Homo sapiens: one gene and its partner. The gene in region 1 interacts genetically with each later gene. Each region holds a gene or a part of one and is shown on either strand. Other genes may lie near its edges.

Region 1 (15,838 bases):
CAGGTGCCTGTGATCCAAACCGAGGATGTTAGAGGGGCATACATACTGAAGCAGTGTCTGGTATCCATTCATTCATCAGATGTTTATTATGTGCCGGATATTGGAGTAAGTACTGAGAAGGCAGTGGGGAACAAAACGGAGCCCTGCCTTCATGGCTCTTACCATTTAGGCAACAACAGCAATAATAAGCAAGCAATGATTTAATTTTGAAAGGAAACCAGACCTGGTGGGTGACTTGGGACCCAGGAACCCAGGCATGATGCAGAGATGGGACGGAAAGGTTCTCAGGAGCCCCAGCCTGGGAGGGTGTTAGTTCCTCCGTGAGAGCTCTGCTACACCCAGCCTGGGGTGTGGGGAGGCCTCTGTGGGCACCTGAATCTTCACTCTAGATGCTAAGGTTATTCCGGGGTTGATTTGTTGTCTCTTGTTTCCACAAACAGCACAGTAGAGCCTCCTGCCTCCCTCCCTCCCCCACCTCTTCCAGACTGAGGCTATTTATTCCTAGTGACAAGCCTGAGGATCCCAGGGGGGGTGGCCTTAAGGACCTGGAGGGGCCTCGTGTCCCTAGCAGGCGCCAGTCCTCCCTCACGGACACAGGGAGGAAGCCAGAGGCTCAGACACCGCAGAGGTCCCCTCCCCTCTCCTCCACCACCCCTGAGGTGCCCCATCCTCTCACACTCCTCACACCCCACCCTAGAAGCCCAAAGATCATGGGGCCGAGGATTAGGGTCTCCCCCGGGCCTCAAAGGTCAAAACTATTCCTGGGCACTGCGGAAACCCAGGCAAGGCAGGACTTCTCAGTGTCAGGAGGCTGCTGGAAGTGGGGAGGTGGTTACCCCTGTTTTTGCTACTCAAAGTTGTGGAATAAAACCCTTTGGAGGTCAAGGCCCTATGGTGGGGAGGGGTCCTCTCTTCGTCCCATGTTTTCAGAGAACACCTTGGTGCCCGCTGACAGGCTCATGACAGCAGAGTCAAAACGTCCTCCTCCAGGCTGGATTAAGGCCGGGCTGAGTGTCACCCCTGGGGTAAGGTGAAGGGGTGGGGGGATCCGAGGAGGCCAGAGGACTCCCCCAGTGGACCATGGTCTGCGGGGTCTCGTGTCGCCGGCCTGAGATGGAATACAGCAGTCTCCCTCTGGCAGCTGGGGATGGGGGGTGGGAGGGGAGGAGAACAGAGGCTGCGGGGAGGGGACAGGGGCGGGGTCCCGGCCGCTTGAAGGTTGGGAGAGCCAGGTTAGGCCGGGCGGGAGGAGGGGGCCGGGCCGACTGGCGGCCGAAAGGGAGGTGGGGGCGGGGTCTGGCCCCCGCGGCGGGCTGGGGGGCCGGGGGCGGGGTCCGGGCGGGGCGGGCCCGCGCTCACTTCCTCGGGGAGGGGTTGGGGCCGCGCTCCCACTCGCCCACACGGTCCGTCTGCAGTCGGCAGCCTCGCCGGCAGCTCGCTCGGCCCCCGCTTGGCCCGGCCCGCAGGTAGGAGCCGCCGAGGGACGCGGCGCCCGGTTCCCGGCCCCGCCTGCGCCGCGCGCTCCCCGCTCCCGCCGCCCGCTTCGAGGTGAGCGCCCCGCCGACCCCGGCTCCCAGCCCTGGCGGTCCGCCCCCGCGCCCAGGCCGGGGAGCGAAGGGACCCGCGGAGGGCTGAGGCCAGCCGCGGCCCCGGTCCCCTGTACCCGCCGGGCTCTGGCCACGGGTGCCCGGGGCACGCCGAGCCCGGGACAGCGCCCGCCGGGACTGGACCCCTCCGGGCTATCGGGCGGGGCGGGGGCGGGGGCGGCAGCGAGAGTTGGGCGGGGGAGGGGGCTAAGTTTGAAATAGAAAAGCCGGAGAGAGACAGACAGACCGACCGACCAGAAGCGCTGGAGAAACTGAGGTTCTCGGAAAGCCCGGTGGAGCGAGAGACCGAGACAGGCAGGGACTCGAGGCACAGGAGGCTACCGAGACCACTGAAACAAGGACACACCGGGCGTACAGAGTTACTGGTGGACAGACCCGAGGCATGGGGGCCGTCCTAGGCTTTGTGGAGCATTTTCAGAAAAAGCATACGTGGGACCCCAGCGAACACATTCCCTAGGGCCCTTCCCCGGGCCTTGGAGGTGCCCTGAGGCTTGGGCGTCATTGGCCTCATGCTGAATCTGCTCTCTGAGGCCTGCAGAGACGCTCAGAGACTAGAGACAGAGACATTCAGGCGTGCAGAGGTGGCGAAAGAGACTTGGATGCAGAGACAGAGAAAGGGAGGTGGTGGGGATTGAGACATTCAGCCATGTAGACAAGAAGAGACCAAGACTTGAGATCCACAGAGGCATGGGCCCCCTGGGGGACAGCCAGTCAAGATACAGAGCCGTCCAAAACCTAAAGACAGAGACTGAAGTGTGCCCAGACACAGAGATGCTGAGTGAAGCAGAGACAGACACCAGAAACTGAGACTAAGTGGGGGCAGAGAGACCTAGGTGGTCTGACAGCTTCCAGGACAGCCCCTGACTTACCCGGGCCTGAACCATTGGGAGGTGAGGCTGTGGGGAAACAGAAACTCTGAGCCTACCGATCCCCCATGAGGCAGAGGCCCTGAGACAGTAAGTTCGAGATCAAGAAGAGCCCCACGCACACACACAGCCACCAAGACAGCCCCAACTTATTTTTGAACTCAAATCTTGGATGGGCTGCCTCAGCCCTGGGGGACCCAGGGTGAATGAACTGTTCCTCTCATGTCCCCAGAGCAGCTGCGGGATCTTGCTCCCCAACCCCCTTCCCTAAACTTCTCTGACTTCCAGGCCACATGGGGGAGAGCAGAGCTTGGGGTTGGTGCCCGGTAGCAGAGGGTGAGGGTTGAGGGAGTTGGATTTCTCCCCTTAAGTCTCCTGTCAGCTTCTAGAAGGTGGGGGAGGGGTCTGTTCTGATCCTGACTCACAGCTGTGGGACCTGGCCAGGGTCCTCCTGGACAGTGGGCATGTTGGGGGTGGGGGCAGAAGGATTGAATGGTTGGCATGGGGCATTGGAAAGGCTTCTGGGTGTCTTCCAATCACAGGGCTAGCAGCTGAGGAGAAGAGCCAGGCTCTGGTGCATCTCCTGTTCCCCTGCCCTTAAAAACTGACCACCCCCATGTCACCATCCGCTTCATCACCAGGGCAGCATTTTTAGGGAGAGGGAAGAGCTCTGGGCTGGGAGGCAGGGGACCTGGGTCCTGATCGGGACCTTGGGCATGAACCTGCTCTATTCCTGGCCTCCTTGTGCTCAGCTGTAAAATGGGGATGATACTCTGTCCTGCCTGCCTTTTGTGAGATCTGATGAGATTGTGGTGGGCATGGACTTTGTGAGTGGCAAAGCAGCATGCAGGTGTCTACATCCGTGGACCTGCATGAGAGATCTCAAGAGTTAAGCTTACTAGAGTCAGGCTGACCGGACTGAAGCGACCACTTTCCCCACTGGTGTCCTCAGCAAGCCCCATGGGCCTGGGGCCCCCTATTCTCTCCCTGGGCCTATGCTGAGAATGTCCAGGTCAAATTTCAGACCAGGCTGGGCACAGTGGCTCACGCCTGTAACCCCAGCACTTTGGAAGGCTGAGGCCAGAGGATCACTTGAAGCCAGGAGTTCAAGACCACCCTGGGCAACATAGTGAGAACCCCATCTCTACAAAAAATAGAAAAACCTAGCTGGGCATGGTGGCACATGGCTGTAGTCCCATCTACTCAGGAGGCTGAGGCAGGTGGTTTGCTTGAGCCCAGAGTTGTTTTTTTTGTTGTTGTTTTGTTTTGTTTTGAGACAGAGTTTTGCTGTTGTAGCCCAGGCTGGAGTGTAATGACATGATCTTGGCTCACTGCAACCTTCACCTCCTCGGTTCAAGCAATTCTCCTGCCTCAGCCTCCTGAGTAGCTGGGCTTACAGGCGCCCGCCACCATGCCTAGTTAATTTTTGTATTTTTAGTGGAGATGGGTTTTCACCATGTTGGCCAGGCTGGTCTTGAACTCCTGACCTCAGGTGATCCACCGGCCTTAACCTCCCAAAGTGCTGGGATTACAGGTGTGAGCCACCTCACCTGGCTGAGCACAGAAGTTCGAGGCTGCCGTGAGCCATGATCGTGCCACTGCACTCCAGCCCTGGCAACAGAGTGAGACCCCAACTCAAAACAAAAAAAAAAAACAAAAAGGCTGAGCGGACACCAGCTTGGCCAACATGGCGAAACTCTCCATCTCTACTAAAAATACAAAAATTAGCTGGGCATGGTGGTGCCCTCCTGTAATCCCAGCTACTTGGGAGGCTGAGGCAGAAGAATCGCTTGAACCTGGGAGGTGGAGATTGCAGTGAGCCGAGATGGAGTTAACTGCGCTCCAGTCTGGGTGACAGAGTGAGACCCTGTCTCAAAAAAAAAAAAAAAAAAAAAATTGGGCTGGCACTGTGGCTCATGCCTGTAATCCCAGCACTTTGGGAACCCAAGGCAAGAGGATAGCTTGAGCCCAGGAGTTTGAGACCAGCCTGCGCAGCATATTGAGACCCCATCTCTATTTAAAAATTCTAGTCCAGGCAGGGTGTGGTGGTTCATGCCTGTAATCCCAGCACTTTGGGAGGCTGAGGCAGGGAGATCATGAGGTCAGGAGTTCGAGACCATCCTGACTAACACAGTGAAACCCCGTCTCTACTAAAAATACAAAAAATTAGCCGGGCGTGGTAGCAGGTGCCTGTAGTCCCAGCTACTCGGGAGGCTGAGGGAGGAGAATCACTTGAACCCGGGAGGTGGAGGTTGCAGTGAGCCGAGATTGCGCCACTGTACCCCAGCCTGGGCGACAGAGCGAGACTCTGTCTCAAAAAAAAAAAAAAAATTCCAGTCCAGCTGCTTGACCCAGACCTGCCTGTGAAACTGCTATCTGGCCCCAGTATGAGTGAGGGCGCTAATAGTAAAATACTAATAGCTACCATTTTCTGAGTATTTATTATCTGCCAGGTGCTTTACAAGTATCATCACATTTAAGCCTGACAACAAACTTAGGAGGTAGGAAGTGGTAGTATCTCATTTAATTAGATGGGAAAACAGGCTTAGGGATTTGCCCAAGATCACTCAGCCAGTAAGTGCAGGAGCCAGGATTCAAACCTTACAGCTTGAGCTGCTCCATACACCATAGCCAGTTACGCAGTCATTCTGAGCTCCAGGAGGTTCACTGGGAGGTGCCTTGTGAGGGGAGATTGTTGGAGGTGCAGGGTTGTGAGCCATCTGTAGAGGAGCAGTCTCCCCCAAACCCCGCCCCACTGCCGGTCAGGAAGGAATACAAGGCTGGCTCCCTTCAGTCCCCGCAGTCCCCAGCCTTGCCAGGGAAAAGGGCAGGGAGAGGGGTATGGGCAGAGACAGGTGGGCCTTGTTGGTGCCCTTTACTCTGTCCTCACCAGAGCCCAGCTGGATAGACTAGGGCATTGGGGGATTCTGGGAAGGAAATAGAAGCCATGCCCATACCCTATTTGGGTTGCCCTGGTTTCGGAGTGCTGACTGTCTCTCAGGGGGTGGACCCAAGTCTAGCCTGGGCCTGAGAAGGTGGCAGCCGCAGTGGGCCAAGCCAAGAAGGAAGGAAGAGGCCCAGGCACCCCCTGTGGACGCATTCCACCTGTGTGGCCCCCTGCTGCCCCGTGGCTGACAGCCCAGGCAATCCTCAGATGTTGGGCCAGAGGAAACCTGGGCCTGAGTGGCAGGAAGGGGGCTGAGAAAGAGGAGTATCTTCTCTACACCATAGCCCCCAGCCCAGGAGTTCCAGCTCTAAAGACCCTGGCCCCTGGTGGCCTCATGCCCTGGCCTGGAGCGCAAGCTGGCTGTTCTCCCATTGCGCAGAGGCTTGATGTATGGAGAGTCAGGCCTCCAAGCTGGGGGCATCTGCTGGTGCCTGGAGTCTGAACTTCAAGCCAGAGCAGCGCTTGTTGTCAAGAATTTCGCACTGGGGGTGGATGAGAAAAGGAGGACTTCTCCTTCAGCTTGAGCCAGGGCAGGCCCTGGCGACTGCCAGCACTGGAGCCTTGTGGGAGAGTGGGTTGGTGGATTCCTTTGTGTGTCCCTGTAACTTCCCCGGGCTCATCCACAGCTGTGAGAACATCTCCTTCCTATGGGTCCTGGTGGTTCCTCTCCACTACCCCAGGATCCCAGCCCTTAGAGAGCAGCCTTCATGATGGAGGAGAGCAGGGGTGGGAGCTCTGACTTTGGGGCTAGAGACTGGAATCCGGGGCAGCAGAAAGGTCTGGGAACCCCACTTCCCTACCGCTCCACTCCCTAGGCTCCTGTTCCAGAGGCAGCTGTGTGGATGACCTCATCCCACAAACATGCTTTGTTCCTGAGAAAATGGAAAGTGTCTGAGGTTTGGTCGGGGGCTGGGTGTCTCCAGCAGCAGCTCTCAGGGCTCCCCCTTGTCCTACTCCCCACCCAAGATGGGGCCTGATTGGGGAGAAAATGTCTTCAGTGGCTCTTGCTCTCTCTCCTTTCAGCTCCCTAGTCCCAAACCCTGAGAAATCGGAAAAGGTGGGAGAGACCTTCTCTCCCAGAGGCAGTAGGAGGGAAATCATGACCCCAGGGGATGGAAAGATCCTGGGGTTTTGCCAGATGTTAGCAGGAGGTGGCAGGGGGTACACTGCACTCCCAGTCTGTCTCCAGTTCCCCTCTGCCTCCCCCGACACTTCATTTTCCTTTTTTCTCCCCATTGCTGGCAAAACCTGACATCTGGCCATCTGTGCCGCCACAGCTGCTGCAGATGTTACAGGCCAAGGCTGTCCAAGCTGGTGTGACACAGCGGGGGTGGGGGGATGAGGGCAGAGGGTCTAGCTAGGGAAGACTGGCTGTGTCCAGCTTGCAGGATTTCCTTCCTGCTTGAACCTAAGCTGAGCCTCTGAAGTTCCCATTGCTTGGCTGATTCCCCGGGAGGGAAGGCCCAACCTCTCACACTGGCCTCTTCTACCATTCATTAGTCCAGCACCTCTCTAGCATTCCACTGTTTTCTGGATCAGGAGGGGCAGGCACAGCCCATTCCCGTCTCTAAGTTCTGTACTCCAGAGCTCTGGTTAAGGGTTCCTTTATCCATATTCCTAAAGTCCCTTCCTGGGAGTCAGGAGAGGGTGGGAGTACTGCTCATAAGGAGTAGAGTGGGGTGGCTCCCTGCCCCTGCTTCTCCCACGCTGGGGACAGTCGGGACAGTGGAGGCTAGACGCTGGCTGGGACAGGAAATGAGTCACTGACCCAGGAAAAGCCCCCTCCCCCTAGATCTGCTAGGGCCTAGATAAGAAAACAACTTCTGCTTCCTGGTTTTTTTCCTGACCTCTTCCTACCCCGAGTTAAATACAGAAAGAAACATGTGGGATTCCTGGTTTCCCAGAAGCACCCCTTCCCCATCCCCACCTACTCTGAACTGGCATTTCCTATGCCGGGTCTCTTGGCTGTGTTTTGAATGCAGAGGCCTCTTTGCCAGGAGCCAAGCCACAGCCTCTCTGTGTGACCCCAGTTCCACCTTGTGCTCCTAACAGGGTTCTCTCCCCTTGCCACCATGAGCGAGTCATTTGACTGTGCAAAATGCAACGAGTCCCTGTATGGACGCAAGTACATCCAGACAGACAGCGGCCCCTACTGTGTGCCCTGCTATGACAATACCTTTGCCAACACCTGTGCTGAGTGCCAGCAGCTTATCGGGCATGACTCGAGGGTAAGGAGAGGGCCAGGCCAGGCAGGAGGTGGGTGGTGACCAGTGGAAGGGGGCAAAGGATGGGTCCATGAGGCCTGGGTGCCAGTGCCCCTGCTGTGTTCCCCACAGGAGCTGTTCTATGAAGACCGCCATTTCCACGAGGGCTGCTTCCGCTGCTGCCGCTGCCAGCGCTCACTAGCCGATGAACCCTTCACCTGCCAGGACAGTGAGCTGCTCTGCAATGACTGCTACTGCAGTGCGTTTTCCTCGCAGTGCTCCGCTTGTGGGGAGACTGTCATGCCTGGTATGTGTTCAGGGGCTCATCTTGTGTGAGAACTGGCATCTGCGTAGGGTCTTTGCATGTGTCTGTCTGATACATGGAGACTTGGTCTGTGTAAAGACCTGCATACACAGCATGTTTCTGGAAATTTAGTATATACGGGATCTGTTTGCCTGGTATACTCCTGGGGGCTACTATGTACAGGCAGATTGACACATGTGATACATACTTGGGGGCTTAGCATGTGTGAATATCTGCATGTTTAGTACAGGTAGGAACTAGAGGTGTGCTGAGACTGTCATGCTTGTTGCATTGGGTCTTAATGTATGCAGAAGCAGATAAACAGAGGGCTTAACATGTGTGGGGACCTGCATGCCTAATAGAAATGCTGGGACTCAGCACCTATGGAGAATGGTGTGCCGAGGAGATGCGAGGGCTTAGCATGTACCGAACCTGTCATGCCCAGGGCATTAGAACTTTGTGTGGGCAGATACTTACTTGCCTGGTACATGTGGGGTCCCATGTGAGTGCTAAAATCATCACATCTGTTATATGAGGGCTTAGCTCTTAGTGAGACTTCATGACTGTTACATGGAGGCTTGATGTGTGCTGAAATTGTCATCTCTGGGACATATGGGGGCTTAACATAGGCCAAAACCCTCGTGTCTAGCTGGGTCATCATGTCCGGTGTCTGGGGAGAGGTTAGCATGTGTAATATACATAGGGCGGGGGGGTTCTTGCTGCATGTGCACGGACACCACCCTGCTCACGCTGAGAGAGGAGTGGAGACTCCTGGGGAAGTTACAGAGGGTGGCCCTCAGGAGCATGGGACACAACCTCTAAATGGGACCCCTGTTCCCCACAGGGTCCCGGAAGCTGGAATATGGAGGCCAGACATGGCATGAGCACTGCTTCCTGTGCAGTGGCTGTGAACAGCCACTGGGCTCCCGTTCTTTTGTGCCCGACAAGGGTGCTCACTACTGCGTGCCCTGCTATGAGAACAAGTTTGCTCCTCGCTGCGCCCGCTGCAGCAAGGTGGGGGCTGGGCCAGCCAGGTGGGGGTGAGTGAGGCCTGTTGTGGGGTGGGAATCCCCACTCATACCTACTAATGGATGCTGCCCCCACAGACGCTGACACAGGGTGGAGTGACATACCGTGATCAGCCGTGGCATCGAGAATGTCTGGTCTGTACCGGATGCCAGACGCCCCTGGCAGGGCAGCAGTTCACCTCCCGGGATGAAGATCCCTACTGTGTGGCCTGTTTTGGAGAACTCTTTGCACCTAAGTGCAGCAGCTGCAAGCGCCCCATCGTAGGTGGGACAAGGGTCAAAGAACGGAGTGGGTAGGGTGCAGGCAAGGGAGTGGGATGTGGTATTGGGTGAGGTTGAGGGCCGGACCATCCCCACATCTGCATAGCTAACTTCCAGCCTCCCTCCAGGACTCGGTGGAGGCAAGTATGTGTCCTTTGAAGACCGACACTGGCACCACAACTGCTTCTCCTGCGCCCGCTGCTCTACCTCCCTGGTGGGCCAGGGCTTCGTACCGGATGGAGACCAAGTGCTCTGCCAGGGCTGTAGCCAGGCAGGGCCCTAAGCCAGGGCTCCTGGACCCAGGCTTTCCCATACCACGGGCCCAGGACTGTGGCTCCTTTTCTAAACCACCTCTGGGACTCAGCTCCCCCCGCCAAAAAAAATGGGTCTCCTTCTGGGCTCCAGGATTGTCTCCCCACTCCAGCATCCCCAAACTGGTACTCCCTGACCCAGGGCCCCAAACCTGGGCTCTTACAGAGCCTCCATGAGTCAAGCCCCCTCCCCACACCTGGACTCCAGAATTCACCCTCTCCCCTGCAGTCTGGGTTCCCAGACTGAGTCCTCTCCCCAAATCAGGGCTCTAGACCCGAGCCCTCCAAACCTGGACTCTGGGACTTAGGCCCCCTTAAATCTAGACTTCTCTTTATAGGTTTCAGGTCTCCTATGGGTGCCTGGGAAGTCCTTGAAAGTGGACTGTTCTCAGGCTTGACCTGCCCCACCCCATCCCCGCGGTTGAGGCTGTGGGGGCAGCAGATCAGGAGCCCACTGATAAGGGGCCCTAGGGTACAGGGTGCTGCCCAGCAGGTCGCCACCGAGTGTCTTCTCATTTTATTTCAGCTCCATTTTGCCCATAGATGGGCAGAGGGGTGAGATTGGCTCATCCCCCTTCCAGATTCTGCAATAAAGCGGTGTGAGGAAGCAGGGGCCTCCGTGTGTGTGTGTGTGTGTGTGTGTGTGTGTGTGTGTGTGTGTTCAGGGTATAATGGGGAAGGAAGGGTTTTTGCAGACTGGGAGGCTCAGAATCTCTGCTAGACCTCATCCTTGCAGGGTGGGGTGGAGGGGGGCCGGGCCATGGGGTGGGAAGTCTCTCCCCATGAAGGGGATCCCCGCCACAGCTACCCTCCCTCTGGAGCTCGTCCTGCCTCCCTGCTGGCAGAGGGCTTTTTCCCTCATGTAGGGAAGGGAGGGGTTTGGGGGAGGTTCCAGATGAAAGCCAGGGTGGCGGTGGGGTTCCTTAATTGGCTGGTACGAATAGTCTCCTCCGCCAACAGCCCTGCCCAAAGCCCGCAGAGCAAGGACCTGGTTCCGATCCCCAGTCTGGGCCCAGACCCTCTCAGCCCCCTTCCCCCTCTTCCCAAGGATTAGCAAGGGCGGCCCAGGATCCTCTCGCGGCCGCACGTTTTTTGCCAAAAAAGGCAAGGATGCAGCTGCACACGCCGCGGGAACATCTGGATCCGATTCCCGGCATGAATGGGTCACGCCCCGTCCCCCGCCAACAGTGATTCAAGTCAAGGGTGGAGGCGGGAATGAGCGAGGGGGGCTGTCCCCCAAAGTGGGGAGATGGGCGGGGCGACGCTCCCCTCGCCCGCCCGGCGTCCGACGTCCCTTGTCCCTGACCCTGGCTGCCGCGGTCTGGGCTCGGCCGACCGTCCGGCTGTCGGGGCAGGTATGCGCACACAGTGGCGCCCACAGCTGCCTGCAGCGAGGCCCGGCCCTGGGCAGGCGGACCCTCGGCGCCCTGGAGTGGGAGAGCCCCTCCGGCCCGGCGGAAACCGCCAGATTGTATGTATCTCATATTAATTCCTCCCGTCCTGTGGGCGGGCATTATTACTTCCATTACACAGAGGTGGAGACGCCTGCAGTCAGCTGCCCCAAGTCACATAGGTAGTCACTGGTAGATCCTGGACTCTAACCGCTTTCTGAAGCCATGGTTGACATTTTCTTTTCTTTTTTTTTTTTTTATTTTACTTTAAGTTTCAAGATACGTGTGCAGAACGTGTAGGTTTGTTACATAGGTATACGTGTGCACGGTGGTTTGCTGCAACTATTGACCCGCCCTCTTAAGTTCCCTCCCCGACATTTTCAACAAACTTTTACGAATGCCTACCACGTGTGTTTATAATTAATAATTACCACATATGCTTACGGTTTTATTTGTTTCTCTCTCCCACCAGCCTAAGGACTGAGATCCTGCCTGCCTTGCTCCCCGCTCTCGTTCTCAGCTCCCGGCACTTACTATGTGTTCAGTAAATACTTGTTGAGGAAGAGCAGTCCAAGCATAGAAAACAACTGGCGCAAAGGCCTGGAGGCCTGAGAACATACGGTGCTTTGGGGAAGTAGCAAGTAATTCCATTTGGAGGAAGTGCCAGGAGAGTAAAATGGCAGGCAGAGCCCAGGTCCTAAAAAGCCGAATGCCAAGTTGCACAGACCTCACCCTGCAGGAAATGCAGCCTATGGAACTGTTTAAGCAGGGGCCTGTGATGAGCAGAGTTGTAGACAGATCATGCTGGCTGCAGCATGAATAATGGAGTGGAGGGGTAAGATGAGCAGGCTGGTTCGGAGGCTAGTGTAGTGTGGTCCGGGTGAGACATCTTGCAGCAGGTAGCAGCTCGAGTGGAAAAGGCAAGACTTGCTGCCTGGAGTGGGGATGAAGAAACATTTAGGGGCAGGAAGGCATCAGGTTTGAGACACAGTGACTGGAGGATGGTGGTGGTAAGGCGGTCCACCCACCTAACAGGAAGTGAGAGATGTGCAGCTACAAAATTGTTTGATTTATTTCAATACAAACATTTTTCAGACTTAACATCTTAGAAACCCAGACATATAATCAAGGCCAGGCGCAGTGGCTCACGCCTGTCATCCCAGCACTTTGGGAGGCCGAGGCGGGTGGATCACCTGAGGTCAGGAGTTTGAGACCAGCCTGGACAACATGGTGAAGCCTCGCCTCTACTAAAAATACAAAAATTAGCTGGGTGTGGTGGCAGGCATCTGTAATCCCAGCTACTCCGGAGGTTGAGGCAGGAGAATTACTTGAATCCGGAGATGGAAGTTGCAGTGAGCCGAGATAGCACCACTGCAGTCCAGCCTGGGGGACAAGAGCAAAACTCCGTCTTAAAAAAAAAGAAACCCAGACATATAATCAAAGGTGTGTCATTGTTTAATTGACAATTTTTTCTCTCTTCCTTAGTAAAGCATAAAATAATACTGAGTTTTACATTTGATGGCATCTCGTATTCAAGAAATACAGTAGCTCTCCAAGTTTATACCCCCCAAAAAACAAAACAAAACAAAAAACATTTGCTGAGTCTCCCCACTCCCTGAATGGAGATTTCTACTTTACCTCTTTCCTAATGTCCCAGGAAAAGCCCCAGATGAGTTGTGACTGGGTCCTTTCCCTAAGCTTGGCAGTCCTGCTTAAATTTCCGATATACAAATAAGATCCCCATAACACCCTCATGAGTGGGCAAAACACAGGTCACTATTTCCATTTTATATTTATTTATTTATTGAGACAGAGTCTCACTCTATCGCCAGGCTGGAGTGCAGTGGCGCGATCTCGGCTCACTACAACCTCCACCTGCCGGGTTCAAGTGATTCTCCTGCCTCAGCCTCTCAAGTAGCTGGGACTACAGGCGTGCGCCACCATGCCCAGCTAATTTTGTTGTATTTTTAGTAGAGACAGGGGTTTCACCATGTTGGCCAGGATGGTCTTGATCTCTTGACCTCGTGATCTGCCGCCTCGGCCTCCCAAAGTGCTGGGATTACAGGCGTGAGCCACCATGCCCAGCCTCCGTTTTTTCAAACTTTTTTTTTCTTTTTTGAGACAGGGTGTCACCCAGGCTTGAAGATTATAGCTCACTGTAACCTCAAACCCCTGGGCTCAAGTGATCCTCCCGCCTCAGCCTCCCAGGTAGCTGGGAGTACGGGCAAATGCCAGCAAGCCCAGCTAATTTTCTTATTTTTTGTAGAGATGAGGTCTCGCTATGTTGCCCAGACTGTTCTAGAACTCCTGGCTTTAAGCGAAATTCCCAGCTTGGCCTCCCAAAGTGCTGGGATTACAGGCGTGAGCCACTGCACCCAGCCTGCTTTCAAACTTTTAAAAACAAAAAGTAATGCATGTTTACTGTAGAAAAATTGGGCTGGGTGCGGTGGCTCACGCCTATAATCCCAGCACTTTGGGAGGCCAAGGCAGGAGGATTGCTTGAGCTCAGGAGTTGCAGACAAGCCTGGGCACCACTGTGAGACCTCATCTCTAGTAAAAATTTTTAAAAAATTACAGCGGGTCTGGTGGCTCATGCCTATAATCCCAGCATTTTGGGAGGCCAAGGCAGGAAGATCGCTTGAGTCCAGGAGTTTGAGACCAGCCTGGGCAACACGGCAAAAAACCCCATCTCTACAAAAAATACAAAAATTAGCAGGGTGTAGTGGCGCACATCTATAGTCCCAGCTACTCAGGAGGCTGAAGTGGGAGGATAGCTTTAGCCCAGGAGGTCGAGGCTGCAGTGAGCCAAGATTGTGCCACTGTACTCCAGCTTGGCAAGACCCTGTCTCAAAAAAAAAAGAAAAACCTTGGCTTGGTGTGGTAGCTCATGCCTGTAATTCCAGCATTTTGGGAGGCCAAGGTGGGCGGATCACCCTGAGGGCAGGAGTTCAAGACCAGCCTGGCCAACATAGCAAAACCCCATCTCTGCTAAAAATACAAAAATTAGCTGGGCATGGTGCCACGCACCTGTAATCCCAGCTACTAGGGAGACTGAGGCAGAATTGCTTGAACCCAGGAGGTAGAGGTTGCAGTGAGCCAAGATCGTGCCACTGCACTCCAGCTTGGATGACACAGAAAGACCCTGTCTCAAAAAAAAACAAAAAACAAAAAACCTCGCAGTTTTTTGGTGTGCGGTGGCTCACACCTGTAATCCCAGCATTTTGGGAGGCCAAGGCAGGCAGATCACCCGGAGGTCAGGAGTTCAGGACCAGCCTGGCCAACATAGTGAAAGCCCGTCTCTACTAAAAATACAAAAACTAGCCAGGTGTGGTGGCAGTCACCTGTAATCCCAGCTACTCAGGAGGCTGAGGCAGGAGAATCGCTTGAACACAGGAGGTAGAGGTTGCCGTGAGCTGAGATCGCGCCACTGCACTCCAGCCTGGCGACAGAGCGAGACTCCCAAAACAAAACTTTAAATGTGGCTTTTGTTGCGTGGGAAAAAAATAAAAAATTAACCAGGGTGGTGGCACCCACCTGTGGGGGCCACAGGGGTGGAGGCTGCAGTGAGCCATGATTATGCCACTGCACTCCAGCCTGGGGCAACAGAGAGAGACCCTATCAAAAAAAAAAAGAAAAAGAAAAAAAAGAAAAAAGTGAACAATAGGTAAATTACTAATAATGTGATGCATTATGTCCTCCTCGTTCTTTTTTGTTAAACATAAATGTGCACATATGTATTTTCAGTTTTAAATTAATTTTTAAATTGAAAAAGTATGTTTAAGAATAACTTTTTATGCTGTGCTTGGGGTGTATACAAAGAAAAATCTCCCATATCAGATCTCCAAGGCTGTCTGCTCAGGAACAACCACTGTTTACTGTTACTTGGATATCCTTACAGAAATAATCTCTTTGCACATCTATTTTTATACACACTTGTGCATCTAGCTTTTTTCAGTTTGTGTGGCCATCTCTCCATATGAGTTCATACAGAGTTTTTAACAGTTTTATTGAAGTGTAATTTATATACCATAAAATTCACCCATTTTTAACAGTACAAAGCAATTAATTTTAATAAAATGAATAGAGTTATGCAACTATCACCACAATCCAATTTTAGAACATTTCTACCCATCCAAAATGGATTCCTTGTGCGCATTTGTAATCACTTCCAATCTCACCTGCGGTCACAAGCAACCACTCATATTTCTGCCTCCATAGATTTGCCTTTGTTAACTCAATTGTAGCCTAAAGCTGCCTCCTTACATATTTTAAATTTAGCCTAAAGGTTTCTCTGTACATTGTGAACTATAACCTAAATGGAGTTGTAAACAGACCATAGCCTACTCTTTGCCAATCACCGAGTTTTGGCCAATCAAACATGGCAAACTATGCAAACCGTGTTCAAATAAGGCAAAGACCAAGCTGTAATAACCGGTGTTTTTTTTTTTTTTTCTTTTTGCAGGGGCCATGCTAATCTTCTCTGTATGGTTCCAATTTTAGTATATGTGCTGCCATAGCAAGCACCAGTGTTTTTCTTTTAACACCGTTCTGGACGTTTTATCTGGACATACACTGTTGTTTTTCTGTCTAGCTTCTTTCACTTAGCATGATGCTTTCATGGTTCATCATTGTAGTATTCATTTATTGCAGAATAATGTTCCATTGTACTGTATAGATATACCACACTTTATCCATTTGCCAGTTAATGGACTCTTGGGCTGCATCCAGTTTTTGTCTATTATGAATAATGCCGCTGTGAACATATGAACACATGGACATGTTTGCATTTCTCTACCTACAAGTGGAGATATATAGACAGAATTTTTTTTAAGGCTGTATGTCATTTCACAGCTGGTCTTCCACTGCTTGGATGCACAGTATTTTATTTTATTTTATTTTACTTTTTTTTGAGACGGAGT
Region 2 (16,593 bases), on another chromosome or scaffold:
CTTCTTCTTCTTCTTTTTTTTTTTTTAATGAGACAAAGTCTTGGGCTGGAGTGCAACGGCAGGATCTGGGCTCACTGCAACCTCCGCCTCCTTCAAGCAATTTTCCTGCCTCAGCCTCTCCCGACTAGCTGGGATTACAGGCACCTGTAATCCCAAGCGATTTTCCTGCCTCAGCCTCCCCCGACTAGCTGGGATTACAGGCACCTGCCACCCAGCTAATTTTTGTATTTTTAGTAGAGACTGGGTTTCACCATGTTGGCCAGGCTGGTCTCAAACTCCTGACCTCAGGTGACCCACCTGTCTCAGCCTCCCACAGGGTGCCTCCTTCTAAAGCCAACCTTCTTCCCTTCATTCCATACTGTCCCTAGAAAATACCACGCCCGCCCCCTCCTAGAAAGTCTCCTTCTTGAGTGAGGAACCCCCTCCCCCTCAATTCCTGGGCTGTATTTCACTATCTTTAGCATCTCTTGGACTTTGAGCTAGCTGTTTCAACTTCCCAGTGAGTCTGTCCCAGTAGATGCCCCCTGCTCTAAATAGCACCCTCTGCGATCCGCAAACATTACAAGGACATCAAAACAAAGCTATCAGCTGGGTTCCTAGCTTTAGCAGCCAGTCTAAACTCTTTTGTTTGTTTCTCAGACAGCTTATTGACTAGGTGATGAGGTCAGAAGTTTTCTTTTCTCCTTGGCTCTTCAAGAAGCACCTGCAAAGTCAGGGAAGGTAGAAAAAGTCCACTCATTTAAGATTTCAGATGAACATCATTTTTCTGAGCATCAATTGCTTACCAGCCAACAACTTGTAGGGGTGGGAGACGACCAAGGGAGAAAAAGATGGGAACTTAAAAAGCAAAGATAACCTCCACCCTTTCCCATCTTGTATTAATGTGGGCATAGGCAACCCACTTGATGAAATGTTCTCAGAGACTCTGCATGTCCACATGAAGGAGGAGAAAAGTAGGTGAGGGCAGGAAGCTGATCAACCGTATGATAAATGCAGCTGTTGTATGTGACAAGCTACCTGTTTTCTTTCATCAGGCTCTTTCACACTTCTCCAGCCCACTAAAAGAGGGTCCTGGCTCCCCACCTGTCCCCTCCTTCATAACACACCACCCCTCACCCTGACCCCAACAGTTTATCTTTGCATATTGGAAAAACTGGCATTTATCAAGTAATCTACTCCTCATAGGTTGTTAAACAGACCACAGGGGTTATCAGTGGGGCTGATATAGGAAGATAAACAGCAACCTCTTATGCAAATAGCACTAAGAATGTGGGACTGGCCACAGGACAAAAGCAGAATTTAGGAGAACATGAATCTTAACACTTTTCTTCAGTTGCAACCCTGGAAACCCACAGGAACCTGGAGAAGGTTCTCTTGGGTGGGATTTCCCCTCCCTTTCTTGCAGGGAGGGGCAGGTGTGTCAGGAGGTGCAGCCTGCTTTGCAAGGCAAGGTGGCGGCTTCACGTCTGATGAGGCAACTCCTTTCTGTGGCCACAACCTTCTCCTCTGCGCAACAGCCGTTTCATTTTTTCTGAGATTTCGGACCCACTGGAACGTGCTTAGTTCAGGCTGAGGAGGAGTCGGACTAATTGAGAGAAAGAGAAGGTGTTCTCCCAGGTGAGAGTCGGGGGTCAGAGGGCAGTAGGAAAAAAAAATGCATAGAAAACAAGGAGTTCTGGGTTCCAAGATGCAACCCCCATGACCAGGAGATGCTCTTCAGATCTGCCTTTGCTGGGAAAGAGGCGGGAGGTGGCCTGGGGTCCAGGTGGCATCTTTTCAAACCCTTCTCATTATTTAAGGGCAAACTCACATCAAGAACCAAGAGGAGAGTGGCTCCAAGTGACAAAAGAATTACACTTAGAGGAACATAGCAAGCGGCTTCTCACACCAGGCTGCAGGCTGGGGAGGGGGAAAATGGGAGCAGAATGACAGAATCCAGGGCTGGCCAGAATGAAAGACTGAATGGAATAGGCTAATTTACACAGGAAGTAAGCACTTACCAGACCCTTCATCTCAACACACAAAACCCTCGGCCATATCTGGAAGCAATTACATCCAGTTAACATGATCTGCTTGCCACTAAAATTAACTGCAAACAGAAATATTTTTCACTTTTGCAACAGGGGATGCCAAGGTTTGGCCTATTCTCCCCCCCAGCCGTTGAATCTGGCTGCTGGGGAATATTTAGCAGCTACTCAGCTCAAAAAAACAAAAACTACTCTTGTAGCTGTCAGGACACAGAAAGTAAAATAGTGGATAATTATGAAGGGGGGAAAGGCGCGGGAGAGGTGGCAATGAAAACCATTGTGCTAGAAAGTGAGGAAAGGGGCCAGGCACATGGGCCCTATATAGGTCTGCATCCCTGACAAGTCCAGTCTGGTTTTCCACACTGAACTTCAAGGAAAGAAAAATGTTTTTAGAGTCACTCGATTTAGCAGCCGCTTCACATTGTTTTTAGGTACCATCTTTATCCCTTCTGCCAAGGGGGCGGGGGTGGGGGTGGGGGGAATGCAGGGAGGTAGACTCACAAATGTTAGCGGATCCTTAATTTAGCAGATCATTTAGGGGACAACTGTCACGATTTAACTTTTGCATTGAACATTTCCAATCCCTACTCTACAAACGCCTTCGAAGCAGCTTTCACCGGCTCTAAGCGGGGCAAGAGCTGCTTTTAATTTGAGACGTACACAGTTTTTCCACGTAAAGTGAAGAGAAGCCCACGAGGAGGTGAGAACTTGCCTCCGTGAGCGTGCGTGCCCAGAAATGAGCCAGTGGCCCTTTCTCCAAAACTCCAGATCCAGCCGCCCGACTCGCTGGCCACTCTAGTCCTTCGGCTTTGCAATCAGCCCCGCAATCAGATAAGAACTTATTTTTATTTTTCCTTGAACTGCTGTCAACGATGCCATAAATGCCAGAGACAGATGGACAGATTTCTTTTAAAGTTCCTGAGGAGGCGTCATCTCCAAACCCTTCCCCCAGCGGCCCCTCTTTTCTGGGCCAGATTCCGGCATGCTTTCCCCGAAAGTGCAGTTCACTCCTTTGTCACCAGGGGCCTTTAAAACGGCAGCGGCAGCAACAGCAGCAAAAGTAACGCATCCATTTGCCAGACAACTCACAAACATTTTTTCTCAAGAAGAGGCAGGCAGAAAAGTTCCCCTCAAGAATGAGGTCAGACACTGCTGTTCTCTGCAAAAATCACACTTAGAAACATTACTCATGGGAGAAACAAAAGAAAACGAACAACTTAAGTAGCCTTTCTTTAGGACTTTGGGCTATGATGGGGGGAAAACTTTTGGTCTTGATCTGTTAAAGAGCAAAAAAGCACTATGCCATTCTTTTTAATTTTTAAAAACTTAGGCCAGGCGCAGTGGCTCACACCTATAATCCCAGCACTTTAGGAGGCTGAGACAGGCAGATCACCTGAGGTCGGGAGTTCAAGACCAGCCTGGCCAACATGGCGAAACCCCATCTCTACTAAATATATATATATATATATACAAAAATTAGCCAGGTGTGGTGGTGCACCCCTGTGGTCCCAGGTACTTGGGAGGCTGAGGCACGAGAATCACTTGGACCCAGGAGGCGGAAGTTGCAGTGAGCTGAGATCGCGCCACTGCACTCAAGCCTGGGCAACAAAGTAGGACTCTGTCTCAAGAAAAAAAGAAAAAAAACCCTTAATTTTACAATGGAAAAAATACTGAAGTATACACATCCTTTCAAGTATACAACCTGAGGCCACACCACTGGCCGGACGCTGGGCCATGTATTCTCTATACATCACCTACTTAACAACACTGCTCTACCACCAGTATGAATCAGAAGTTATTAACTTCATCTCACAGATGAGGAAGTGAGTGGTGAGGAATCTTGCCACGGTCACACAGCCTCTAAGAGACAGAAGATTAATTCGAACCCAGGTTCAATTCCAGACACAATGCTCTCCAGCTTCTTACCACTTTGCAGCCAACAATCGCAGGAAATTTAGATGCTGCAAGAATGCAAGAAAAAGAAAAAAGAAAAGGAATCCTCCCATGAAATCCACCCACTCCCAGCAACAGCCCCTGCTAGCACGTGGGGGTCTCTCCTTCCCCTTGACCACCCCACACACACATGTACCTAGGCACATACGCTCACAACACGGCTCTGTCACTGCACAGCCGTCCAGGCATGGAAACGGTTAAGTCGCCCTCACTGCATAAATCAAAAGTTCAAGGCTGCAACATACCACAATGATTCCCTCTTTACATATGACAAGAACCAGAGAGGGGCTGAAATCCCAAGCATCCTGCACAGGGTCTCCCCGGCCCGCACAGGTTATGCCGCCAGGGTCAGGGCCGCGGACCTTTAGCGGCAACATTCATTTCCTGAACAGGACAAGTTCTCCTGACCATAAAGCTAATAGGAACTTCCTCGCACGGCGAGCTCCGGCTGACAGGGCTACTTGTCACTGGCCACGCAGGAGGAGAGCACTGGTTCCCATTAGTGGGTTATGATGCCAGGTGCTACTAATAAGGTACATCGGCAAGAAACAAGAGCCTGCTAAGTTGTCTCTCCAACTCTGGAAGTAATCAGGCCTGGGCTTCGGTGTTGGGGAGGGACGTTCCTTAAAGAGATGGGTTGGGGGAGCTGAGGGTTTTGCCATAGTAGACCCCAGCAGCACCTAACCTGCTGAACAGCTTAAATAAATTTCCAACAATCCCTCCACATTTCCCCCAGCTACCATAAAAAGCTCCCCCAAATTAACACTAATAATGGTTGCCCCAGCACTGTGGGCCCGATGGATCACGCTAAGGGCCATTATGGTCGGCCACATCTGCTTCTCACTATGGCAAGGAGAGCCGTGCCAACAGGCCTAATGGCATTAAGATCACAACGCTGAGCTAATCCACTTAGAGCACAACGCCGGGTGAGGGTGGCAGGGGGCTCAGCGGCTCCCTTGTCAGGCTGGGGTCATGAGAGAAGCAGGAAGTAGGGAGGTGGCCTCACACTCTGTGTGCTTTAGGTTACAAGTGATCTCATTAACATACTTTAAAAACCACATTGAGAGGTAGGGGCTAACCTCACTTCACAGAAGAGGATACTGCTGCTTCACAGAGGTGAAGTCATTTGCCCAAATTCACCATGGAGCACTAGTATTCAAACCCAAGTCCATCAGACGTCAGTCTTTCTGCCCCTGCAGTGCCACCCCATCTCCCACTAAGACGATGGTTTGGTGGCACATTTGACTTGTTCTCAGCAAGCCTGGTGGTGGTGGTTTATGTGCGTGTATATGTCTTTTCTTCTTATTTCTGGGGGAACCGAATGGCCCTAAAGAGGAAAGAACTCTAAAAACCACTTCAAATGGCCCAGAATGTCCCCCCTTCATCAAAATGTCTGTGACAGTCTTCTAACAACTTTCTCAGTAACACCCCAGTGTCTCAGGAAGTCCTTTCTCTTACCTAACTTGGACCCTTTCTACTGCAATGCTGAACACAATCTGTTCACACCGAAGAAAATCAGGTCCCGAGGACACAGTTGAAAGTGAGCTAGGAATTTAGAATTAAGGTTTTTCTAAGTATTTAGCGGAAGTTTCCATGCTGACAATAAAGTACCGGATCCCCTCCTTGCAGCTGCAGAGATAAGCCTCACGTAGGCAAAACCCAACCATAGTTTTTCCAGACTGCACCAGCATAATAAGGACACCGGGGCTTTTAAGGGGAAACAGTAGAAAGGGGAATTTCTGATTATGCTGGCATGAAATTAACAGCATGGGATTTTTATTTTTGTAAATGGGTTTCTTTTTTCTCTCTTTTTCTGTTTTTCAAGTCAGCATAAAAGGCCTCTATCACTAGAAGCTGATCTCTCTGTGTTGGTAAGAGATGACGTACTAGTCCTTGGATCCATGCGGCCTGGGCCCCTAAAGAGCTGAACCCTCTGCAGTAACCTTCCTCCTCGCAAGAAGCCACCAGAGGAACTGAGGAGGCCAGAGCTGGTGAAGCCATGAGCCCCCTGGTCACCCAGCTGCAGAGAGCATGGAGCCAGAAGACCTGAACATAAATCCTGGTACAACTCTTTTTTTTTTTTTTTTTTTTTTGAGACAGTCTCACTCCTTTGCCCAGGCTGGAGTGTAGTGAGTGGCATGATCTCGGCTCACTGCAAGCTCTGCCTCCCGGGTTCACGCCATTCTCCTGCCTCAGCCTCCCGAGTAGCTGGGACTACAGGCGCCCCCCACCACGCCCGGCTAATTTTTTGTATTTTTAGTAGAGACGGGGTTTCACTGTGTTAGCCAGGATGGTCTCGATCTCCTGACCTCGTGATCCGCCCGCCTCGGCCTCCCAAAGTGCTGGGATTACAGGCATGAGCCACTGCGCCCGGCCTGTACAACTCTTTACTAGAGAAAAGTCCACTAACCTCTTGGGCTTCTCTCCGCCCATCTGAGAATGTGAAACTGATACCCACCTTACAGGACAGCTAGAGGTCTTACAGAGATGCTGGCTGTGAGTGCACTTAGCACAGAATCTGACATGTAGCAAGCACTCAAAACAATGTCTGCTGAGTCCACATTTTAGAAGCATCCTGCACTGACAGGCAGGAAAGGGAAGGAGCTCTGGAACCCCCAACACCCACAAGCCCAGCCCCAGGACCCCCATCAGTAAGGTGGTATCTGTGCTCTTCATCTCTCTCATAAGCACAGTGATGTGCACGCCTGGCCACGTGCACAGGCAACAGGACACCGCATCAGTGAGCCTCCCCGGCATTTGGACCCGATGGCAGTGGAGCGCTGCCCGGCTAAATTTAAACGAGAACTGGAATGACTCACCAGGCCTCAGGTCAATGGGACAAAGAGTACCCTGGCCACCACAGTACAAGAGATCAGCTTCTGGGGAAGACGCAGAAGCAATGTCTCAGCCCCAAACATGAGGTGCCCGAGGCAGCAGTTTTACAGCACTGTACGGATTGACGCCTATGCGGAAGAACGGTCTCAGGGAGAAAGCAGGATCTGGACCAACATGAACACATTTTTCACCCTGCATGGCTAGCATGACCTACTTCACACAATGACAAGAAAAATACCCTAGCAAACACTTATGGAGCACTTACTTTGTGCCACCGTTCCTCACACAGGATAAATATTTTCTGATGAATCCTTATAACAACCCAATGAAGTAGGTACTACTATTATTTCTGTTTCACAAATGAGCAAACAGGCACACAGAAGTTAAGTAACACAACCACTGTCACAGTTAGTAAGTAGCAAAATCAGAAGTCTGACCTGGACAGTCAAAGTGCTCATTTCCTATCTGTAAAACGTGGGGGTGGGGAAGAGTTGTAGCAAATTTCTTACTACTTAAATAACTGCCAGAGAGTAAGAGCTTTCACCCCACACACCCAGCCAAAACAGAATAGAAAATCTTTAGTTATGGAAAATTCAGAAACCCTCCAATGGACAAACTGAGGCACACCTGTATTCATTTAGTAAGACTCTAAGTCATATATACTTGGGCTTTCAGCAGGGCTTGCTTTAAATTAATAAAAAAAATTAAAGTGATTGGAAAAGTTTCTCTCCTGAATTAGCAAGAAATCAAAGAGCTGTGAATAGAATTTGATTTTAACAGTTTAGGATAATCACTATTTTAAAGATTCATAATAGTTTTCCTAGAACGAGCAGGAGGAAAACGTGTTGCTAAACTATAGCTTTCTCCCTCCCAGCAATTAGCGGCTCCATCCAATAGTGATGGCAAATTAAAATGGGACTTCTCACTGAGATGAAAGAGTGGGCAACTTTCCTCCATTGAAAATAAAATAAAGGAAATCATCTTCAAAAGTTCCAAGAGTTCAGTCTAGATCCCAGATGGCTCAGTAACCCTAAGCAGGTTAAAGTATTTTAAAAAAAAAAAAAAAGTCAGAACACACAGAATCAAATCAAACTGACCCCCTACTTAACTGGCTGAACTGCCAATCCAGATTCCAAAACAGCAAAATTCAATTAACCAAAAGGACTTCATGAAGATATAAGTGGGTACACAAAGAATAAAAGAATTTTTTAAAGAGCGCAACAATCCAGAAAGAGCTCACTGAAGTGCCTAGTTTTAAAAATGAAGAAGTTAAGGCTCACGATGAAAAAAACGATGTCAATGGTGACAGAGCTGAAAAACGCAGAGCTAGGTCTAGACCTGGCCTCACCACTACAAAGCCTTCTGCCATCTTCCTATCTTCACAACCAACAACCTCTCTCCAAAAGACCAGATTTCCAGGAGCCCAGGAGATTATAAACTTGTCATTCATCACCCCTAAAAAGGATACTTCCTGGAAATGGAAATGGATTCAAAAAGGATTTTGGCAAATCTGTGAATGACAAGGCAGCCATAAATAGCTACTAAGAGAAGCTACACCTGACCTTTAGGATTGACGTCAAGGAAGATGGTTGTAGCCTCCAATGGTGGTATCTTAGGCATGGTGATGGCAACCAAAGACTAGGTCAGATGGATTTGACCCAGAAGAGCAATGCTCATGTTCTTATATGGCCTGGTGCAGAGCGCCCAGGACTGTGAATTAGAAGGCAAGCTGAGTGCCTGGTTCTACCCATTTATAGCTGTGTGACCATGGGAAGTCACTTACTTGCTCCAAATCTCATTTTCCTCATTTGTCAATAGAGAATGATAATCGTTCATAATCCCTTATCCAAAACCTTCAGGTGCTTCAACGACCAAAACTGTTCAGACTTTAGAAAGGTACTCTGGGCCGGGCGCGGTGGCTCACGCCTGTAATCCCAGCACTTTGGGAGGCCGAGGCGGGTGGATCATGAGGTCAGGAGATCGAGACCATCCTGGCTAACAAGGTGAAACCCCGTCTCTACTAAAAATACAAAAAATTAGCCGGGCGCGGTGGCGGGCGCCTGTAGTCCCAGCTACTCGGGAGGCTGAGGCAGGAGAATGGCGTGAACCCGGGAAGCGGAGCTTGCAGTGAGCCGAGATTGCGCCACTGCAGTCCGCAGTCCGACCTGGGCGACAGAGCGAGACTCCGTCTCAAAAAAAAAAAAAAAAAAAAAAAAAGAAAGGTACTCTGACACCTATCGTGTTTAACAGCCCCAGCAGAGTCTAGGGCAGCACTCTGTAATCAAACACATTAATATTTTTGCAGCAAAACATATGAATATTCAAACTAAGCAGGATAAATATAGCCTCACATCAGTTCAGATCAGGTTTTGCCACTAAATGAGTTTACTGCAAACTTTTTAGTTTTCAGAGCTTTTCAGACTTCATTATCACAGATATGGGATTATGGACCTGTACCCACTCAAGGAAGGCTGTGAGGGCAAGAGAGATAAAGTCATTAGAGGTGCTTTGCAAAGAAGAAAATGCTGCAACCGATAAAAGGTATTATTAATATCATTGCTGTGGCTATCATTATTCTACAGCATACCCTTTTCCAAACAGAATTTAGTTTGACATCAGAGGTTCTGGACGGGATGATGAAAGAAAACCAAGAGTCTCAGGAAACCTCAAAAATCCCAAAAGTAGCCTAAACCAAGGTCAACACCTGTTGGCCTTCTACATGATCAACCACTAAAAACAGAGCAGCTGACCATCTGAGAGAGACCAAGGCCAAGGGCCAGGCAGAACTCTGATATCTTAGCCACAAAGCTCATGCACCGTACAGCTGGCTCCACAAAGCCTCTGGGAAGGGCTGTACACACGGATCCAGAAAGCTGGCTCAGACATTCCCTGTGGTTCCTGAGAATCCCTTCAAGAACCAGGCAATAGGCCGGGCGTGGTGGCTCACACCTGTAATCCCAGCACTTTGGGAGGCCGAGGCAGGTGGATCACGAGTTCAGGAGATCGAGACCATACTGGCTAACACGGTGAAACCCTGTCTCTACTAAAAATACAAAAAATTAGCCGGGCGTGGTGGCGGGTGCCTGTAGTCCCAACTACTTGGGAGGCTGAGGCAGGAGAATAGCGTGAACCTGGGAGGCAGAGCTTGCAGTGAGCTGAGATCGCGCCACTGCACTCCAGCCTGGGAGACAGAGCGAGACTCCATCTCCAAAAACAAAAAGGAACCAGGCAAGAGTTGCGACGGTGTCTGTGCAGGACATCCACTGCAGCTGACCTAAGTGCTTGTCTGTATAAGATCCAGAAACCAGACCCCATTGTGCCTCTGCAGCACTAAATTCAGAAACACATAAAGACCAAGCTGCGTGAGCCATGGGAGACTAGGGACTATAAATGAGGACTATGTTCACACTTAAGTCTATAGAACTATACTGTTCCCTGCAATCTTATCGCATATGTACGTAACTCTGAGAATGATCAGGTGCTCCTGGCCTGGATGAGCTGGTTCCTAGACCATTTCCAGAGAAGCCTACATGCAGAACTGCTCCAGCCTTTTGGAATAAGAAAGGGAGGGCCCAGTGTTCCAGAATCCTGAGATGATCTTCCCCTCCCTCAGGCATTATCCTCTGTAATGTGGATGCACTGGTGAAGATTTGGGGGCCCAAAGCTTGCTCCTTCATCTGCCTGCAGAATACTGCTTATCTATCAGATCTTCCCACTGTTCTGACTTCCTTCTGGTTTGTTTAGGTAAGTCAGTCCCATTGGATGCCTTTGTCTGGTCTTCCCACCCATCCATGACTACACTTGACACTGCATCCCTTTTACAGCACGTCATTCCTGCAGTGGACGGCTTGTACATCTTGCTGTCCGCTGCAGGAAACAGGCTCTACAACTCCACTAAGTTTGATTCTCACTATCTGTTGAGCCAACAGCTTACCCTTCACTCCACACCAGCTTGGGATCAAATCATGGGGAAACTTACCGATGACATTCCATAATAAACTCCCTGCCTTCCTGCCTCACTTACCAGCAATCCGCCTTCATTTCCTCTCCATTCCCTTCTGCCCCCCCACCCCAAGAAGAAATGCAAGAAGGACTGCTGGGTATCTAGTCTTTACCAACACTCAGGCCTATTGACTTAAAAATAAAATAAAATAAACCCTGTAGCCTGTTATTTTATCACTGATATATTTCCAGTGAATGCCATGGCTTCCTGGCCTCAAAATCTCCCCTTCTGATTTTTTTTTTTTTTTTGTCTTGGCTTTTTGTTTGTACTGGTTATAGGGCTGTTGTTTTTTTTTTTCCACCATAGCATTTCTCAGACTGCTGATGGGTTGGGGGGAGACAGAGAACAGTAGAAAAAAGGGAATAGCACATTAATCCTGGAGTTTTGAGGGTGAGGGGGAGAAAAAAAGCCTTCTACAAAGTACATCTAGCTGGGACCCGAGGGGCTGTTGATCTGAGTGAGGGCTGAGCACACGCAGGATTATTTTCTCCCCTTTCTGATTTCTTTAGACCCCCAAGCTTCCCATCAAAGGCACTGCCCCTGGCTCTAACTTCTTGGGCTGCAGCTGCTGACTTTCCACCCTCAGTCAAAAGCACATTCTCGGCCCAGCAGGGTGGCACACACCTATAATCCCAGCACTATGGGAGGCCGAGACAGGTGGATCACTTAAGGCCAGGAGTTCCAGGCCAGCCTGACCAACATGGTGAAACCCCATCTCTACTAAAAATACAAAAATTAGTCGGGCATGGTGGTACACATCTGTAGTCCCAGCTGCTCAGGAGGCTGAGGCAGGAGAATCACTTGAACCCGGGAAGTAGAGGTTGCAGTGAGCCAAGATCATGCCACTGCACTGCAGCCTGGGCGACAGAGTAAGACTCTGCCTCAACAACAACAACAACAACAAAAGCACATTCTTCCTGTCAGCAGCCCACATGTGACACGGAGGATTCCAGGGCCAGTGTCTTGCTGTCATATGCTCACAAGGACAGGGACATTCTCTGCACCACCTCACAGTCAACACAACCCTCATGGAGGGTGGCACTGTGGACACTACACACTAGAACTCAGAGCCAATGAGGACCATGCAGAGATGAGGCCTAAACAACACAAGGGACAGATGGTCAGTTCTCCACCGCTGCGGTGACTATGTGCCCATCACAGCTCTAGTGATTTCTGGATCTTACTTCATTAATTCAGCACCAACCCTGTTGACCGTCTCCATTTTAAGAAGTGAGTGAAGGCCGGGCGGGGTGGCTCACAGCTGTAATCCCAGCACTTTGGGAGGCCGAGGTGGATGGATCGCAAGGTCAAGAGATCGAGACCATTCTGGCCAACATGGTGAAACCCTGTCTCTACTAAAAATACAAAAAATTAGCTGGGCGGGGTGACAGGTGCCTGTAGTCCCAGCTACTCAGGAGGCTGAGGCAGGAGAATCGCTTGAACCCGGGAGGTGGAGACTGCAGTGAGCTGAGATCACGCCATTGCACTCCAGCCCGGTGACAGAGCGAGACTCCGTCTCAAAAAAAAAAAAAAAAAAAAATGTAGTGAGTGAAACAAGGCCCAGAAAGGTTAAATAAGTATCACAGGCTCTCACCACTAAATATGGCCAATTCCAATACCCAGGCTCTTTCGAATATAACATGGCCAACTCTCCCTCTCTCCCCAGAGGAATGAGGGTCTTGCTGAAGGGGAACTTGGAAGTCTCAGGAGAGTGGTATCTTTTGTGGCCCTCTCGGGTAAAGAAAAGCAACCAGGAACCAGGACCTGATGAGAGCCAGAAAAACAATTACTTCCCACCATACCCAGTTCTCATAGCACACAGCCGAAATAATTCACATCCGGAAAGATGATACATCTATCTGGTCAACTTTGGGGAGCGGGTTTCCTCTTTAGGAAAGTTTGAGCAAAAACAAACACAACCTCAGTCTATTTCTGAGCGGTACAAGCATCAAGAAGACACACCTTAGTGGCGGTTATTTTTCGCACCCACTGGAAAAAGTCGGCTACGTTTAGCTCTGCCACACTTTCCACAAGTTAAGCCTCTGAGCTGTCGAGGAGGCAGGGTCAGAGCAGATTCCGGCTAGGGGTGATGAGATCAACTTCCAGATATCCCCACCCCAACCCCTCTCACTCACATCCCCCGTACCTGAACGAGCAACAGGGGAATGGGGGTGAAGGGGGAGGAAGTGGAGAATCCACCCAAGATCAGCAAAACAGCAGACCACAGGGTATGCAGCCAAATGCTGTCGTCAATGACAACAGAAAGCTGGATTTCTTGACTCCATTCATCTGACCCAGAAACTAGAGGATAAAATGATGGGCACGTGGTTTATGACAGAAGCAAGGAAAAAAAAAACAAACTCGCTACTTATCCCCCCTGTTATTTACTCCACTTCCTATAAGCAATCTTCAAAACGCTCTGTTCCATAGACATGATCCTCTTCAAGTCTAAGTGACTCCAAGAGGCAGCAAAGTACCAGGGGGTAAGGACCTAAATTTGAATCCAGCTCTGCCTCTTACTATCTATGTGACCCTAGAAAAGAGACTTGACATCTGAGCCTTAGTATTGTTCCATGTAAAAGAAGGACATTACCAGCTGGACACGGTGGCTCATACCTGTAATCCAGCACTTTGGGAGGCCGAAGCAGGCCGATCACCTGAGGTCGGGAGTTCGAGACCATCCTGACCAACACGGTGAAAGCCCGTCTCTACTAAAAATTCAAAATTAGCCAGGTATGGTGGTGCGTGCCTGTAATCCGAGCTACTCGGGAGGCTGAGGCAGGAGAATCACCTTAACCCGGGATGCAGAGGTTGCGGTGAGCAGAGATCACACCATTGCACTCCAGCCTGGGCAAGGAGAGCGAAACTTCACATCCAAAAAAAAAAGAAGGACATTACCTATCTCAAAGGGCTGTTGTAATGAAAATGCAACTCATGGAAAGTGCTTAGTACTGAACCAAACATGTCATAAGAGCTCAATGAATGGTTATTTCATAGAGAAGGAAACGGAAGCCGGAGGGAAGCCAATGCTAGCCTGAAGCGGCATTTAGTTCAGTGTGAGCAGAGATGGGATAAGAATGAGACTTCACAGGCTGCAAGACCAAGACTCTTATACCCATCCTTTCCCCTTGCATTTAAATCAATTCCCCCTAAATGCATGTGCAGGATCAGAGAATGAGAAGGGAGACAGAGCAAGGAGATTAACTTTCACCAGGAATAAGGTTCAGAACCTGCAGCTGCTCTTGTGGCTTAAGCAGCCCCCAGACCCTCCCATTCTCCCAAGCTGCAGAAAGGGACAGGCTGTCTTCACAGGGACCACTGCATGGGAACCCGAGGACCTGAAACCTAGTAACATGGTCAGATGCAGGGCCCAAGAGACCCTCATCCCACTCCTTTTCTCCTTCTCTCCATTTTATCAGTCACTCCAAGCAAAGGAGAACAGACCAAACAGCCGAAAAAACAAACAGGGGCCCAAAAGCAAAAAACAAAGGGAAGGGCCTATTAAGAAGCTGCGCCCATGAGTGTCCCCTGGTGCTTTTTGGAAAGATCCTAGGCCCCCTCACTACACTTTAAAAAACCTGCTCCCCTCCCCGCCAGAACTTTAGAAGAAGTGTTCTGGTTTTTTCACAAATTGCCAAGACAGGGGAGCCAGGCCCCTAACTTGGGAGCAGCCAGGGTGTGAAGGAGGGGTGTGAGGGCCTCAAGTCCTACATCAGGTGCGGGGCTGGAGCGGGGCCTACCTGTGCTGCTCCACAGCCTCGTTATCAGGAAGCTCGACCCCACACACGCTGCACTGCTCTCCGATGGTCCGGCTCTCTGACTTCATGCCCACAGCCAGCTCCCCCAGCTTGCTGAACAGCTCCCTCTGGATGAAGCCCTGGGGCAGCAGCCCCCCATAGGTGCTGAAGTCCATGGAGACAGCCAGGGCAGGCTGCACGTGGAGGCCAGAGGTCACGGAAGACGGCATGCTCAATACAGCGTCAGCCTTGTGGTTGGGCAACACGGAGTAGATGCCCAGATGCTTCTCAGGCGGGGGTGCTGGGTGCTCAGGTCGGCCAGTGGGGGCCTGGCCAGCCTCAGCTGGGGGTGGCACCTGCTCGGCACTCTCCTCTCGCCCATAGTGTAGCTCCCTAGCACTGGTGATGACGCTGCTTCGAGTCGGGGTCCCAGGCCCCTCTTTGCCTCTTTCCTCAACCTTGTCCCCCATCCCTCCTGAGATGCTGGACTCGGCTGCCCCAGGGCTGTCCTGGCTGGGCACCTCATCCACCTGCATCATCTCCGTCTTCACCTCAGCCACCCCAGGGTGCCGCCCACCCCCAGCCAGAGTTGGCTCCTCGGGCCCTGCAGGTGGCTGAAGAGTTCCCTGCAGGAGAGACTGTCCTATGGTCATCAAACTGTCCACTGCAGCCTTGGTGGGACTCATGGCTGAAAGACCAAATGAAGTGGAGACTGAAGGGCTCTGGTCCACCATGGGCCCAGGGAGGCTCTGTCCAGCCACACTGGCATACCCACTCTCCTCGCTGGAATGCTTCGAGATGAAGATGTTCTTGAGGTACCGAGCCTTGCGGTCCTCTTCTTCCTCGGCCCCGCCATCGGCCATGGTGGCCTCCGTGTCATTGTCGTCTGAGGCCTGGATGGTCTCCAGCATCTTCAGGCACTGTTCCTCCAGGTACTCGATCTCCAGGATCTCGGCCGCATACAGCAGGTCATCCAGGTCCTCCGCCTTGGCTTGCAGCGTGGCTGTATATGCATACTCCAGAATCTGCTGGAAGGTCTTTGGCGAGAGGAAGTCCAAAGTATAGTGTTGACTATTGCGGTGGAAGAGGATCTCAAACATCTTGCTGGTGCAGGCCAGCACCGTCCGGTGGGCGTGGAACTCCTGGCTGTCCACCATGATGACCACATCGCACAAAGTCCCGGCCAGCCGCATCTGGTTGGCCTTGCACAGTAGCCCCGTGGGGTGGCTAGGGTTCTGCAGCTGGATCATGCCCATTTTTGTCAGATCCATGGTGCTCCCCTCGGCTCAGGCATGAGGCTTTCTTTCCTTCTGGGCTCTGCGTGGCGGGGCTGGGTGGGCTTCCTGGGCCAATAGAGGAGGCTAGGAGAAAGAAGAGGGGAAGAAGCAAAAGAGATGAGAGAACAAAAGACAAATTCATCAGTGTCCCTAAAAGTAAGAATTCAACCACTACAACATGCCCCCTCCTCCCTGTTGCCAAGCCCTTAGCAAGAGGATCTTAGAGATTTTAATTGAAGTAGCTTCCTAGAAATCTACAAATCTGCCTTTCAAGCCAGGGATGCTGAGAGTAAAAAGAAGGTTCTGCCACAGCAGATGCCTAATTCACTACTCTATGACATCTGTTAGATGAAGTGAAATGAAAATTGTAGTGAAGTCCTATAAGTCCTCAGCTTTCTCTGTGTCTGAGAGTAGGGGCTCCCTAGGCAAGGCCAACATTCATTATGATGAAGTGCACTTACTTAAAATTAGCAAGACTTTAGCCCCTTCCTTGTCAGCTTCACGCCAGCCCCCTGGATGTCAAGCCTTATCTTTAAACAGTTTTTCCAAACTCTGCCTCACTACAGGAGCCCCAGAAGCAGAGTCAAACTCATTGGAGGCCAGGAGCCTGTAGCCATGGCCACAGAAATCTATGGACACTGGGCTCTCCTCCGCAAAGGCTATCCTCTCACCATCAGCCTTGGCCTCTGGCCTTCTACTGTTCTCAGGGCTGCAAAGCACTGGCAGACCCAAGGCCTGTCCCCATCCCTAGGTACTAACAG

What was found.
Region 2: of FHL3 (region 1) and ZBTB16, changing one enhances a phenotype caused by changing the other (phenotypic enhancement), as found in Homo sapiens cells (one study listed by BioGRID).

The regions. Positions count from the first base shown.
Region 1 is NC_000001.11:37,991,067-38,006,904, reverse strand, and holds FHL3 (four and a half LIM domains protein 3), read left to right. Parts: upstream 1-1,390; 5' UTR 1,391-1,548; intron 1,549-7,472; 5' UTR 7,473-7,492; coding exon 7,493-7,648; intron 7,649-7,756; coding exon 7,757-7,931; intron 7,932-8,772; coding exon 8,773-8,942; intron 8,943-9,034; coding exon 9,035-9,221; intron 9,222-9,345; coding exon 9,346-9,500; 3' UTR 9,501-10,135; downstream 10,136-15,838. UniProt on the Homo sapiens protein: Recruited by SOX15 to FOXK1 promoters where it acts as a transcriptional coactivator of FOXK1.
Region 2 is NC_000011.10:114,062,534-114,079,126, reverse strand, and holds part of ZBTB16 (zinc finger and BTB domain-containing protein 16), read right to left. Parts: intron 15,917-16,593; 5' UTR 15,827-15,916; coding exon 14,559-15,826; intron 1-14,558. UniProt on the Homo sapiens protein: Acts as a transcriptional repressor. Transcriptional repression may be mediated through recruitment of histone deacetylases to target promoters. May play a role in myeloid maturation and in the development and/or maintenance of other differentiated tissues.